Homo sapiens: one gene and its partners. The protein of the gene in region 1 purifies or fractionates together with the protein of each later gene. This does not show direct contact. Each region holds a gene or a part of one and is shown on either strand. Other genes may lie near its edges.

Evidence for each region.
Region 2: the proteins of HPN (region 1) and UGT8 purify together in Homo sapiens (co-immunoprecipitation; 2 studies listed by BioGRID and IntAct, with this or other methods). This does not show direct contact.
Region 3: the proteins of HPN (region 1) and RAB3GAP1 purify together in Homo sapiens (co-immunoprecipitation; one large-scale study listed by IntAct). This does not show direct contact.
Region 4: the proteins of HPN (region 1) and TIMP3 purify together in Homo sapiens (co-immunoprecipitation; 2 studies listed by BioGRID and IntAct, with this or other methods). This does not show direct contact.

The regions. Positions count from the first base shown.
Region 1 is NC_000019.10:35,062,221-35,065,720, forward strand, and holds part of HPN (serine protease hepsin precursor), read left to right. Parts: intron 1-3,029; coding exon 3,030-3,125; intron 3,126-3,318; coding exon 3,319-3,461; intron 3,462-3,500. UniProt on the Homo sapiens protein: Serine protease that cleaves extracellular substrates, and contributes to the proteolytic processing of growth factors, such as HGF and MST1/HGFL. Plays a role in cell growth and maintenance of cell morphology.
Region 2 is NC_000004.12:114,622,807-114,626,306, forward strand, and holds part of UGT8 (2-hydroxyacylsphingosine 1-beta-galactosyltransferase precursor), read left to right. Parts: exon of another isoform or gene 1-72; 5' UTR 73-74; coding exon 75-896; intron 897-3,500. UniProt on the Homo sapiens protein: Catalyzes the transfer of galactose to ceramide, a key enzymatic step in the biosynthesis of galactocerebrosides, which are abundant sphingolipids of the myelin membrane of the central nervous system and peripheral nervous system.
Region 3 is NC_000002.12:135,132,292-135,135,791, reverse strand, and holds part of RAB3GAP1 (rab3 GTPase-activating protein catalytic subunit), read right to left. Parts: intron 2,898-3,500; coding exon 2,808-2,897; intron 1,932-2,807; coding exon 1,759-1,931; intron 528-1,758; coding exon 473-527; intron 229-472; coding exon 1-228. UniProt on the Homo sapiens protein: Catalytic subunit of the Rab3 GTPase-activating (Rab3GAP) complex composed of RAB3GAP1 and RAB3GAP2, which has GTPase-activating protein (GAP) activity towards various Rab3 subfamily members (RAB3A, RAB3B, RAB3C and RAB3D), RAB5A and RAB43, and guanine nucleotide exchange factor (GEF) activity towards RAB18.
Region 4 is NC_000022.11:32,804,705-32,808,204, forward strand, and holds part of TIMP3 (metalloproteinase inhibitor 3 precursor), read left to right. Parts: intron 1-3,500.

The sequences.
Region 1 (3,500 bases):
GGAGGTGACTGGTGAAGGACACAAGGTTTCTTGTCTGGGTGATGAAAGATTCTAAGTCGATCATGATCATGGTTGCACTTGTCTGTGACTACACAAAAAGCCAGTGACTTGTGCCTTTAAAAGGAATTGTCTAATATGTGAATAGTAGTTCAATCAAGCTGTTACCAAAAAACTAATAAAATGAAAAGAAAATGTGTTAAAAATGAATGAATCAGACTTAGAAAGTAAGTTAGGAGTCATTCCCTCTGCAATTCCCTGGAGTATTCCCTTGGTCTTACTGAGACTCACTTAGGTGCCAACATGTCCTTAACACCTCTCCAACACATACATCTTCCTTTTGGATTAAAAGCAGGCCCTGGGCTTCAGATTTCAGCAGGCTGCAGTGTAATAATAATAATAAAAATAGGCTGGGCATGTAATCCCAGGCCAAGGTGGGGGTATCGCTTGAGCTCAGGAGTTCAAGACTCGCCTGGGCAACATGGCAAAACCCCATCTCTACAAACAAAAAAAATTAGCTGGCTGTGGTGGTGCGCGCCTGTGGTCCCAGCTACTTGGGAGGCGGAGGCAGGAGAATCACCTGATCACCCAGGAGATCAAGGCTGCAGTGAGCCATGATCACACCACTGCATTCCAGCCTGGTTGATAGAGCGAGACCCTGTCTCAGAACATAATAATAATAACGGTGATAATGATGATCATGAAGTAGTAATAGCGAGTAGTATTCGAGTTCATGATTGAGTATTCGAGTATAGCGAGTTCATGATCATGAAGTAGTAAAAGGGAATAAGGGAGTACATGATGAGTGTACACAACACAGTAAAATAATCTGGTAAACATAGCAGTGTGCCAGGCACCATTCCAAATATGTCCTGTGTATGGACTCACTTAGTTCTCACAGCAACCCCAGCACACCCTGGTAAGGAGGGTTCTCTTAAGATCCTGTTTTCCACCCAGGAAAAGGTCCCAACCCAAAGAAGGCAAACAATGCCCCAAATTCGTACAGCTGGTGAACGGCAAAGATTTGTGCCCAGGTGGACTGGCACTGGAATCTGTGCTTGTGGCCCCCACGCTGTGGTGACGGAGAATCCAGGGCCATGTTGGGGTTGGCATTATGTTTATTTTTATGTTTATTTTATTTTTCATGATCTGTGGTACTGGTTTCCCATTGAAGGGAGTGATACATGCTTTTCTTTAAAACCAAACCCTGTCCTGACATGGTGGCTCACGCCTGTAATCCCAGCACTTTGAGAGGCTGAAGCGGGCAGATCACTTGAGGTCGGGAGTTTGAGACCAGCCTGGCCAACGTGGTGAAACCCCATCTCTACTAAAAACACAAAAATTAGCCAGGTGTAGTGGCAGGCACCTGTAGTCTCAGCTACTCTGGAGGCAGAGGCAGGAGAATCACTTGAACCCAGGAGGTGGAGGTTGCAGTGAGCCAAGATCGTTGCCACACCCTTCTCCTTAGTGAAAAGAGTGAGAGAGTTAATATTGAAGTAAGGACGCATCTTTGAGGACAGGTGGACAGGTGGAAGCGGCTGGGATTTCAGACACAGGGCTGAGGGGGTCACAGCATGGGCTTTGGGGTCAGATTCAGATATTTGCCAACTGTGTGATCTTGGACACATGGCTTCACCTCACCGTGCCTCAGTTTCCCTTATCTGTAAAATGACTTCCTAGGGTTATTGAGACAATTAAAAGGGTTAATATGAGTAAAGAGCTTAGAGAACTGCCAGCACATAGTGAACACTGGTAAATGTTAGCAATTGCTACTATTGTTGTTTAATACTTTTACTAGTTATATGAACACTTGCTGTTTGCCTGGCATGCAACTCAATGACTCACCAATTTCTCACTACAACTTCTGGGGATAAGTGATTATTATTTCCATTCTACATCTGAGAGCTCTAAGACTCAGGCAGGTGATGTCATCAGCAGGCAGCAGGCAGCAGGCAACAGGCAGGGCTGCCAGGAACCCTTGCATAGGTTGTGCACTGCACAAGGACACCACATCTCAGGGTTACCACTCTCTCTGTAGACCTGTGTATTTATTATTATGATTTTCTGCTAGGTGGAAGTCAAATGTCTCAAGATAGGAGTGTCTCTCTCTCTCTCTCTCTCTTTCTTCTCTCTCTCTCTTTCTTTTTTTGAGACAGAGTCTTGCTCTGTCACCCAGGCTGGAGTGCAATGGCGCAATCTCGGCTCCCTGCAAACTCTGCCTCCTAGGTTCAAGCGATTCTCCTGCCTCAGCCTCCTGAGTAGCTGGGATTACAGGCACCTGCCATCTGTAATCCCAGTGCTTTGGGAGGCTGAGGCAGGAGGATTGCTTGAGCCCAGGAGGTCGAGGCTGCAGTGAGCCATGTTCCTGCCACTGCACTCTGGCCTGGGTGACACTGCAGGCTTAGAAATGAAAACAAGCTGTGTTAAAACATACATGTTATGAAACTTTGGACACGTGACTTGGCCTCATTTTCCCCCTCTCTAAAATGGGATAATATAGACCCTACCTCTCTGGGCTGATGAAACATTAAAGAAAATGGTGCAGGAAGGCGCCTAGTATGCGATGAGCTCTTGGTACGTGGCGACTTCCGTTGTGGCTTTTTTGTTTGTTTGTTTGTTTTTGAGACAGAGTCTTGCTCTGTCGCCCAGGCTGGAGTGCAATGACATGATCTCGGCTCACTGCAACCTCCACCTCCTGGGTTCAAGTGATTCTTCTGCCTCAGTCTCCCGAGTAGCTGGGATTACAGGTGCGTGCCACCATGCCCGGCTAATTTTTGTATTTTTAGTAGAGATGAGGTTTCGCCACGTTGGCCAGGCTGGTCTCAAACTCCTGACATCAAGTGATCCTCCTGCCTCGGCCTCCCAAAGTGCTGGGATTACAGGCATGAGCCACTGTGCCCAGCCTATTGTGGTTTTTTTTTTAAAGAACAGAGAGGGCAGGGTGTGTTAGGGGCCATGGTAGCAGCTGGACAGAGGTTTGTACCAGGTGGGGCAGGCCAGCGGGGGCTGGACCAGCATTGTCTCTCTCACAGAATACATCCAGCCTGTGTGCCTCCCAGCTGCCGGCCAGGCCCTGGTGGATGGCAAGATCTGTACCGTGACGGGCTGGGGCAACACGCAGTACTATGGTGAGTCCTGTCCTCTGCCTCTGATGCCACCGTTTGGGAGACTCTGAACTAGGCTGGGGATGGGCAGTCTGGCTGGTTGGATGAGTCTTGACCATGAGGAGTAGGGACGCTGAGGGGAATGGGGTGGGCACCAGGAGGGAAGGGGGGTGTGTACACCCCCCAGCTCTGGCCAGCCTTGCCTGCACACCCCCAGGCCAACAGGCCGGGGTACTCCAGGAGGCTCGAGTCCCCATAATCAGCAATGATGTCTGCAATGGCGCTGACTTCTATGGAAACCAGATCAAGCCCAAGATGTTCTGTGCTGGCTACCCCGAGGGTGGCATTGATGCCTGCCAGGTGAGGGACTCTGTAGGGGCAGCCCCCTGGTCGCTGCCA
Region 2 (3,500 bases), on another chromosome or scaffold:
GCTTTGTGATTGCTTGTTTTGAATGGTGAGCATTGTATTTTGTTTTAAGTTGTTTTCTGGTTGTTATTACAGCTATGAAGTCTTACACTCCATATTTCATTCTCCTGTGGAGTGCTGTTGGGATAGCGAAGGCTGCCAAAATCATCATCGTGCCGCCAATTATGTTTGAAAGCCATATGTACATTTTCAAGACGCTAGCCTCAGCCTTGCACGAGAGAGGCCACCATACAGTGTTCCTCCTCTCTGAAGGCAGAGACATCGCCCCATCTAATCATTACAGCCTCCAGCGCTACCCAGGGATCTTTAACAGTACCACCTCAGATGCTTTCCTACAGTCCAAGATGCGGAATATTTTCTCTGGGAGATTGACAGCAATCGAACTGTTTGACATACTGGATCACTATACTAAGAACTGTGACCTGATGGTTGGCAACCATGCCCTGATCCAGGGTCTGAAGAAAGAAAAATTTGACCTGCTGCTGGTGGACCCTAATGATATGTGTGGATTTGTGATAGCTCATCTTTTAGGGGTTAAATATGCTGTATTTTCAACTGGCCTTTGGTATCCTGCTGAAGTGGGTGCTCCTGCTCCATTAGCATACGTCCCAGAGTTTAACTCACTCCTCACAGACCGCATGAACTTGCTGCAAAGGATGAAAAATACCGGTGTTTACCTCATTTCCAGATTAGGGGTCAGCTTTCTGGTTCTTCCCAAATATGAAAGGATAATGCAGAAGTACAACCTGCTGCCAGAGAAGTCCATGTATGATTTGGTTCATGGGTCCAGCCTGTGGATGCTGTGTACTGACGTAGCACTGGAATTCCCAAGACCCACTCTGCCTAATGTTGTTTATGTAGGAGGAATCCTAACCAAACCAGCCAGCCCACTACCAGAAGTAAGGTTTGCCGAATTCCTTGGTAATTCTTTTTTAATGTAAAAGTCAATTTTGATTTTTGGAAGAGATATGATTTGTTATTTATATATATTGTATATATACAGTACACTAAAAGGTGATTAGGACATGGGGCCTCCAAAGTCCCTTTATGTGGGTCCACCACTTCCCTGGGAAACATTCCTGCTTTGAATGAGCATTTCTGTAATACTGAAAAGACCACTATGCCATATGGTCAATAGACTGCCTGGGAAGTAGTTTTCTGATTAAGTAATAGTTATAGTATGTGAGGAGAATATAGTTAAATGGTTAATTTTAATGAGTATAAGTGATTTTATCTTTAATTACACACAGAATCCCCTCTGTTCTGCCCCAAATAGCACAATTAACAGGTATATATGTTTAGCTTCAGGTCAGTGAACAGAGGTTCTTCTCTGGGAGGTTATTACCACTAGTTTATGTCCAATAATGAAAGTGAGGTGGTAACTTCCATCAAAGTAGGGAGTTGGTTAATTTAAGCTAGTAAGTAAATGTAATGGTTTTAAGGAAAGCATGCTCTATTGCAATTTCATTTCAATGATGGAATCAATGGCACTTTAAGAAACTCTGTTCTCTATGTGAAACTTAAATTCTTTTTATTGATTGAGCCAACAGTAAATCCCTTGGTATTCTGTTCACCATCCTTGTTTTTTATTAGGTATCCCACATTAGCAGAAGCCATACACATACCTATTGTTGTAGTGAGTTTTCTAACCTCAGATTGAATCTCTCAATTTAACCTCAACATCAGATCCCATTTACTAGGAAGTGTAGGGCTTGTTGCAGGACTTTATTCAAGTTACTTTTAATCCTACCTCTGGAAATAGCCACTCAAAACAATTTTGCTAAATTGTTGATTTCTAGTTCTGGTACTACATATTAAAAATTCTATCAGGGCCTTGATGAAGAGTAAATCCAGATTTTCTCGTATAGATGAGGACAATCACATGGCTGAATTTTGTCGTGAGGCAATAAGGTGATTAGAAATATACGACCTGTAGGCTTTTCTAATATGGCCATTAGAGTTATAATTAATAAATAATATATCGATATATTTCATATAACATGGAAACAGAAATGGCCTGTACACCCACAGCATTTCAAATATATACAGCCACTGGAGGCCATGAGGGCACACTTGTTCTCTCTGACGTCAACTGTAAAGGATAGGGATTAATCTCAGCTTATCTTAGCCATTCTTGAATTTATCCAAGCTCATTTTGAATCCTCAGATCTTCTCTGGCAGAGTCACCTTCCTAAAGGTAGCTAAAATCAGATTTTAGAAGTAGCTTCTAAAAGATTTGGTAATCAAGGTGTGTCTTTACCTTAACTGAGTCATTTAAAATGTTACACAAATCATCCTTGTTCTCTCTAGGTCATCATCTTTTCCGAGCTAGAACACTCCCCTTCTGCCAGCTCCCTTTGGTTTTCATCTGGGTGATGTCTCTCTTCTTCAGTCACTTGATTGAAGAAGAAGTATATGATGAAAAGGAGCTGGACGCGGTGTCCCATGCCTGTAATCCCAGCACTTTGGGAGGCCAAGGCAGGAGGATCACTTGAGTCCAGGAGTTCGAGACCAGCCTGGACAACATAGTGAAACCTTGTCTCTACAAAAAATAAAAATTAGCTGGGTATGGTGATGCATGTCTATAGTCCCAGCTACTCAGGAGGCTGAGGTGGGAGGATCACTTGAGTTCAGGAGGTCGAGGCCGCAGTGAGCTGAGATCACACCACTACACTCCAGCCTAGGTGTCAGAGTGAGACCCTGTCTAAAAAAAAAAAAAAAAAAAAAAAAAGGAATGTCCTGTCCTGATTGCCTTTTCTTTCCTTCCAGTTCCTGCTGTATATTTGTCTTGAGTTGCAGCAACTTGAATGACACAGTATAAGTGTAGGAAAATATTTTATGTTTTATTTTCAATACTCTACCTTTCAAAAAGATGCATAGCATGTGATAATTTTTTTTCTACCATCCAAGCATTTTTTTCTGTCATGGATTCCTCTGCACACAGATGTCCTTACTAGTGTCACTATTTTGTTTTACATGAAAAACATCTTTTTAGTGGTTTTTGGTGCTCGACATAAGGTATTACTCAAAATATCCTTTAATTTGCCATAATTTCTCATTTGACACTGGCTTGACTTTCTTTGTGGAGTTCTTTTTCCTCTGGGCTATTTGTAGTGGTTCTTTTGAAATGCGTTTTTTGTTTACAAAGTTTGCTTTGTGCCAGTTAGTTTGGTTGCATGCACAGACATGGCATGTGTGCATGTGTTATATATAGTATGTGGACATAGATAAGTATATTATTATTATTGGAAGTCTATTAGATTATCATTGTGAAGGGCTGTTTTCATTTCAGAATGTTATTTATAGTTTTTGAGCAGGGAGTATTTTGAAGAATGATGTGCAGTACTCTTTCAGGTATTCCTTATTCTGGTGTGGTTTTATATGCTTATGAACACATGTTCCCACTGAGATTTTTCTAGTAGATTTATTTGAGATAATAAACTGTACCTTTTCATTCTAAAAGTTAATGAGTTTCTCAAATGCCTGTATTATTTACAGGGCAT
Region 3 (3,500 bases), on another chromosome or scaffold:
TTCTTCAGTATCACTTAGGCATTCAAAAAATTCTTCTTCGCTGTCACTCCAGGAATCCCAAGATTTTCCTACCTCTCCCTTTTCCTTATCTGTTTCTTTTAGATTATCTGGCACCAACTGGTCTCCTGCTTTTCCAGCATCCCCTGGATATATATTAGTGACATCTGAAGCACTTGTCTTTTTCCCCTCATCACGTGCCTTCTTTCTTTCAATACAACAATTTAACATCTTAAGAAAAGAGAAATAACATTTATAGTTGAATTAGTTACAGAAAAATAAAAATCTACCTACTGCTTGAATATTTAATTTTCACTCTCCACTTCTCAGGACCTTGTGAATTGCAGTGACTACTGACTATAGGCAACCTACAGCAGCACCATGAGAACAGCATGTAACCCATTATTACATTTAGTATTAGAATAATCTGATTAAATCAAGACCACATTTATCCATGTCATTGAGAAATCTTTACCTGTAGTTTCTGATGCAGTAAACAACACCTCAGATCTGGGGGTCCACTTGCTAATCTATCAAATAAAGTAAGGAGAAAAGAAAGCTTAGTTTTAGTAAAATTGCTTCAGATATGATTATTTTCTATACTACCATAATTTTTAGCTATATTGATAAGAAATCAAAACTAGATTTCCACAGGTAAGGTAAGTGAATTCCAGAGGGGGAGCACATAGAATTAAAAGATGAAAATTTATTTTATACTCCTTGTCCACAAATCACCAATAGCAAATATAATAGATATTTCAAAACATAACAGCAAATTAGTGATAGTTTTCAGGCTAACAAAAACTCAAAATGAGAAAAAGCCCCTGAACCCACTCCAGGAAGTACTAGCATACAGTATTTCACACCATACAAAATAAATCAGTTTGTGTATTCAGTACTAAATTCTTACAGTGGATTCTCACTATAAAAACCAAGATCTCCACCTGTATTTCAATAGGACCTTGGACTGTCTCTAGTTCTAGGTTCCTCTAGACTACTAGGTTCCCAGCAATCAGCCAGAGGCACTCCCTCATATTCAACATGCTTCTGGGTCTGTAAAATGTTCCAGAGCGGACTGTCTAAAACCAAGAGAGAATCCAGCTAAGCAGAGATTGGCAAATGATATAAATGTTTTTGGATCAGTAATCATTTTATATTGCTCAAAATCATGATTCTCCTATCATAGCATGGGTAGATGAGCACTAAACTATGCAATATCAACCTATGTGCTAATGAAAATGTTCTGTTTGATTAAGTAAAATGTCAATTACAAAAAACAGGTTTATTACAAAAGACTTTGAAAATGCATAAAAGTATAAAGAACAAAATAAAAGTATAATTTCACACTGGGAAAAACTGATAGCATTTCACAGTATTTATAATATTTTTCCTGTACAAATATAGCAACATAATTAAAAGTACTTTGTATATGCATTAAAATATTCTACTTTATTAGAAACAATATGAACATCTGTTATTAAAGATTATTGGGGGAAAAACTGTAATCAATCTAATTTTCTATTGTAGAGATACAGTATAATTTATTTAACTATTCTTTTATGTTTGATATTTAGGTTTTGCCTTTTTTTCTATTATATTAATAAATTTGCTGCAGTGAACACCTCTGAACATAAATCATGTCTAAGCTTCTTGCCACTTTCTTAGGGCAGACTTCCTAGAAGGGGGAAAAAATAGGTCAAAAGTCAAATGTCTGCTAACAAACAAAATCGTATCCAAACAATTGAAAATTGAAATTATTACCCTGGAATCAGAAAGTTGTTTTCCCATCGGAAACGCATTTCAAGAACAAATTCCTGCCAGAGGTGTGCCACTCCTTTCAACCCTCCATGGTAAAAATTGATCATACAGAGACACAAAGCCAGTTTGTATGTTAAACTGTCAGATGGTGCAGACTTGAACTGATTGTAGAGATTCTAAATTTAACAAAATAGAAACAAAGCAAACTTGTTACCAAAATATTTTACACATATAACTGAAAAGGTCGTAGGGAGAGATTTTAATTGTAAAATTAACCTATCCCACCTAAACTAGGCATTATCAAATGTCTAATACACTACTGCATAAACTATTCTTAGGAAGTCCCACATTTTCAAGATTTCTACTAAGATTAAAAAAGATAAAGCTATAGTTTAATGAAGCTAAAGTTACAGCTTTCAATTTCTTCTGTGGAATATTTAGGAAGTATTCCAAATTTCATGTGTTGTTTTAAAAATCTTTTAATTACAAAAATGAGCACGTCTGAAAAAACAAAAATCATAACTATCTAAACTGAAAATGTAAAAAGCCTTTGCTTTTTTCTCTCACCTCATCAAATCTACTTCTCAACAATAACTACTGTAAAGGTTGATATATATCTACACTTGTCATTTAAATTCTTCAACTTCTTAATTTTTCAAAGACTAGACAAAGAGACCATGAAAATTTTACCTAATTTTACACATTTTACTTCATTAAAGAGTTGTCCATTCACTAACTAGTTTTAAAATATCAAAAAGAATCTGCTGAGAAACACAAATTTAATGATTTCACCAAAACTCTACAATGAGGGAAATCCTACAGCTGTGTAGAGTATATTTGTGCTATTTTTTCATTGTTTCCAGAAAAATTCTTGCTACCCAAAATATGTATCTGTGCTAGTTATCTAAGTGGAAACCACGATCTGCCATCCAAAATTCCCAAGGTGATTTTTAAAATAAAAATATAGTAAGCTATTAAACTAGAAATATATAGAACCTCTAGAAATTCAGTGCATTTAAAACATTTTAACATTGAACTCCACATCAACTTACATAGTCTTCACTCTCTGATGGAGGATTATTATTATCTGTTGAAGTAGTTCCATCTAATGGTTTCTCAGAAACAGCATCAGGGAATAAGAACTTGAAGGAAAGGAAAAAAATAATCACATTTTAGACCACATTTCCTATTTTGTTGATTTTTATAACTCATATAGACATTATTTAACTTTTTAATGGTTTTGCTGCTCTAACAATAGAAATGTTCCAGTTGTATTGGCCAGTTTGTTCTACACTCTCAAATTTTTTCTATTTTTCTTTGAAAATATACAAGGTTTCAGTGACTAGCCAATTTTAGAAATTAGAATTTTTTTCTTAAAAGTAATCACTTGATTCTGTAAGCTGAAAGGTGCAAAAGCAAAATCTCATCACTGTGACTTCATGCTCACCCAAGGCCATTACATTTTTTTAGTGTTACTACTATCTAAAAAACAAAACCACAAAAGACAATTTAAAAACACTCATGTACTCATGAGGATCTGAAGAGTTACATCATCCACAGGCTTTCATATATAGACTACTAAGAGATGATATTCAAGACCCACAGCTTTATTTTATGATACCCCTGGAAAGTAGGAAGCAGTCTAAACCTATAATAACCAATGTACCTTTTCCATGTGGTTTCTGTTTATATGTACATGTACGAGTGGTCAAAAAAAAATCCAGTGTACATGACAACTGAGCTAC
Region 4 (3,500 bases), on another chromosome or scaffold:
AGTTAAAAGGTGTTTCTATGGCAACTCCAGGCCCTGCACCCTATGGAAGTGTTTAGGAGAAGAATAAACTACATGCCGGCTTATAAGACACACTGTGGGGGAAAGAAAGGGACTTGGCAGCAGGCAGGATGTCTGTGGTCCCCCTCCCTGGCCAGTCATTGCCCCTGAAACTCCTGACAAAACCTTGACTCTAGAAGAGGAATGGGAGGGGGCTGGAGATGAAGAAGGCGGCCTCGGCCCGGGCAAATCTGCCCTGGCAGCTCTGTCCAGCTCAGGAAGGGGTGGGCTGTGCCAAGGGCTTTCTGAAAATGTGCGTGTGTGCGTGTGTGTGTGTGTGCGCGTGTGTGGCTTCTGCAAAGGTGGCTGGCAGGGCTGAGGGGGGTTGCAGCAGAGAAAGAGAATTTTGCTTCAGAATGCCAAGCCCTTCTCTCCTTCTCTCTTGCCGCCTTTGCATGGGAGGAATGGGGCTGTAGGATGAAGTGTGTTCGGGGCCTGCCTCTGAGCCTGTTGGGAATTTGAGCATGAGGCTCAGCTGGGGGGCCGGCTGCCAGCCCCAGAGGATGGCCCCTGGATAGCTCCAAATTGTTCTGACAGGGGCCAGTGCCAGCAGATTCTTTCAGTATCAGATCTGAGGTTGTCGTTTTAGCAAAGAAGCCATTTTCAAAGAAACCAGATCCATCCCCTCTCCCTCTTACACACAATTACACCTCAACACTGGGCTTTGCAACTTAAGGAAAATAGAAAGAATCAGACTTTGGAGAGGCGCCAGCACTTGGTAGGGCAAGTCTGGGGGACCCAGGCTGTGGATGTCTTGGAACCATGGAAGGAGGAGAGCTGCTATCCAGCTGGAGGAGGGAAGAGACATGTCTTAGGCCCCTCCTGGTTGCACGCACTTCCCAAATGCCATCTCTTTCACCCCCTCCCCCGACCCCCCACAGCAACCTTAAGAGTAGGTATTGCACCCATTTTTCAGATGGAAAACACTGAGGCTGAAGAGACTGTGCTTGTCCAAGGCCACCCAGTTGCTAAATGATAAAGCTAAAACGTATTATCAGTTATACCATGCTTCAAAAACCTTTCAACTTTCATTGACACATGACATTCTAAGGTGACCAGGAGATGGAATGGATGGTTAACATTTGAAGAATGCTTTTCTTCTACATCTGGGTTTTCTTTAAAAATATGAAGATAGCCAAAATGGCCAGAGGTTTTAATTAAACATCATCTTTAGGGAGGGAGAGCTTATTATTATTCTAGTGTATCATAGAGGAAAATTCTAATGTTCTTTGGCTATTAGATCTGGAAAAGACCCTTGAAACCATCAAGCCACAGTAATAAAAGGACTTGGTTTGTCTCACTGTGGCCCAAGGAGAAGTAAGGTTAATAGAGACAAGACATTTCAGGGCTTCAAGACTCTTCCCTTAAAGGTGGGATCAGTTAGGGCTCCCCAGTGGGAGGTACCCGGTCTGCCAGTGTGGTAGGAGGAAAGCCAGGGGGAGTCAGGAGACTGGGTCCCAGCTGGAGAAGGTGCCCCTCTGACAGTTCTGTGTCCCTTTCACAGTCCCTGGATAGATAAGGCTAGAAAAGTGGCCACAGAAGTAGCTTGGGTGGAGGGATTTTTGTTTGTTTTGCATGAACAGCAGGAACCATTCAGCTCCACTGCTGAATGGCACATTCCAACAGGTTCATTAATTAAAAACAAAAACAACAACACGATTCTCCATCGCACTTGGCTTTTACCATTCCAGCCAGTATGGACAAGGAGGCCCCTTCTTCTACCTTTTGTCATAGTCTACTCCTGGGTGGCCTTGAGAGGCAGGGTGGAGTGGTGGAAAGGCAATGGGGAGGGCAGATCTGAGCTCCACTCCTTCCTCTGGGGCTTGTTGGCTGTGTGTGCCTAGGCACATATGGGCTACCTTTGAGCTTTAGTTTTCTTATTTATACAAGGGGAATAACAATTTGTACCATCTTGGCCTGTTTTATCTATATTTTAAAAGCTACAAGTATATGAATACATTCTATGTCCATGTATGTATCTCTCTGTATATCTATGATATATCCATTTCTATTTATCATTTATCATCTATCTATCTATCTCTCTATCTAAAATCGGAGAAGAGTAAAATCCTTTCTGATTACTTTTTCTAACTCTAGTCCCTTCTCCAAATCCTTTTCTTCCTATACATTTACATACATAGGTATCCATAGCAAATTTATAGTAGTTTTTCCCTTAGAAACATGAATAGTAGAACATTAAACATCATGGAATACCACATAATACCACATATAGTATTCTGCTTGTTTCCCATTCAACAATGCGTACTAGAGATCTTTCTACTTAATATATATATAAAACTGTCAGAGGAGCACCTTCTCCAGCTGGGACCCAGTCTCCTGACTGCCCCCCTGGCTTTCCTCCCACCACATTGGCAGACTGGGTAGCTCCCCCTGGGGACCCCTAACTCATCCCCACCTTTAAGGGAAGAGTCTTGGAACCTTGAAATGTCTTGTCTCTATTAACTTTACTTCTCCCTGGCCACAGTGAGACAAACCAAGTCCTTTTATTACTGTGGATTGATGGTTTGGAGGATATATATATATAAATATATAATATATAAATATATAATTTATATATAATATATAAATATATAATATATAATATATATTATATATAATATATATTATATATAATATATATATATTATATTTACATATATATTATATATATAATATATATATTTCTTTTATGTATTTCATGAGGTTATAATTTTAAACAGCTAATAAGTATAGAGTGATTACTATGTGCCAGGCATTATTCTAAGTCATTAACTTACATTAACTCATTTAATTCTCTCAGTTTTATGAGGGAGGTGTGCTATTGTCATCTCCATTTTACAGCTGAGGAAACTGAGGCTTAGAAAAATGAGGTAACTCGTTTAAGGTTATACTGCTAGCAAGGAATACAGCCTGTATTTAAGCCCCTTCACCCTGGCTCTAAAATATATTTAACAACTATACTATAGGTCACATTATACCATATCATATTATATATACTACTACATACTCTTATATTATTATAATTATATAATATGCATTTTCAATTTTAATAGTTCCTGCCAATTTGGCCTCCACAGTGGCTGTGTTAACACAGTTCTTTTCATATATGCAACATGAGGGGATGGAGGAATGTTAGAGCCCTGTGCTTAAGAGACTCCCATGCTTCTCTCAAATAGAAAAACAATTTATAATTTTTATTGACTTACTGAGTGTTTTTTTTCCTTCTTTTTGTCTCTTTGAAAGGGAGCAAAATTAGGGCCACGAAGATCAAGTTAATGGGAGTATTTTCATAGGGAGAGGAAGGCTGCAATGCCAGGAAAGCTGTGACCCTTGACTTGTTGCATGCTGGAGTAATTCGGTTGAAGATAGCTTTATGTATTTATTTTGCTTTCAGAATAAGCAGTGGACCATTTATTACACCAAGTTGTTTGACTTTGAGGACT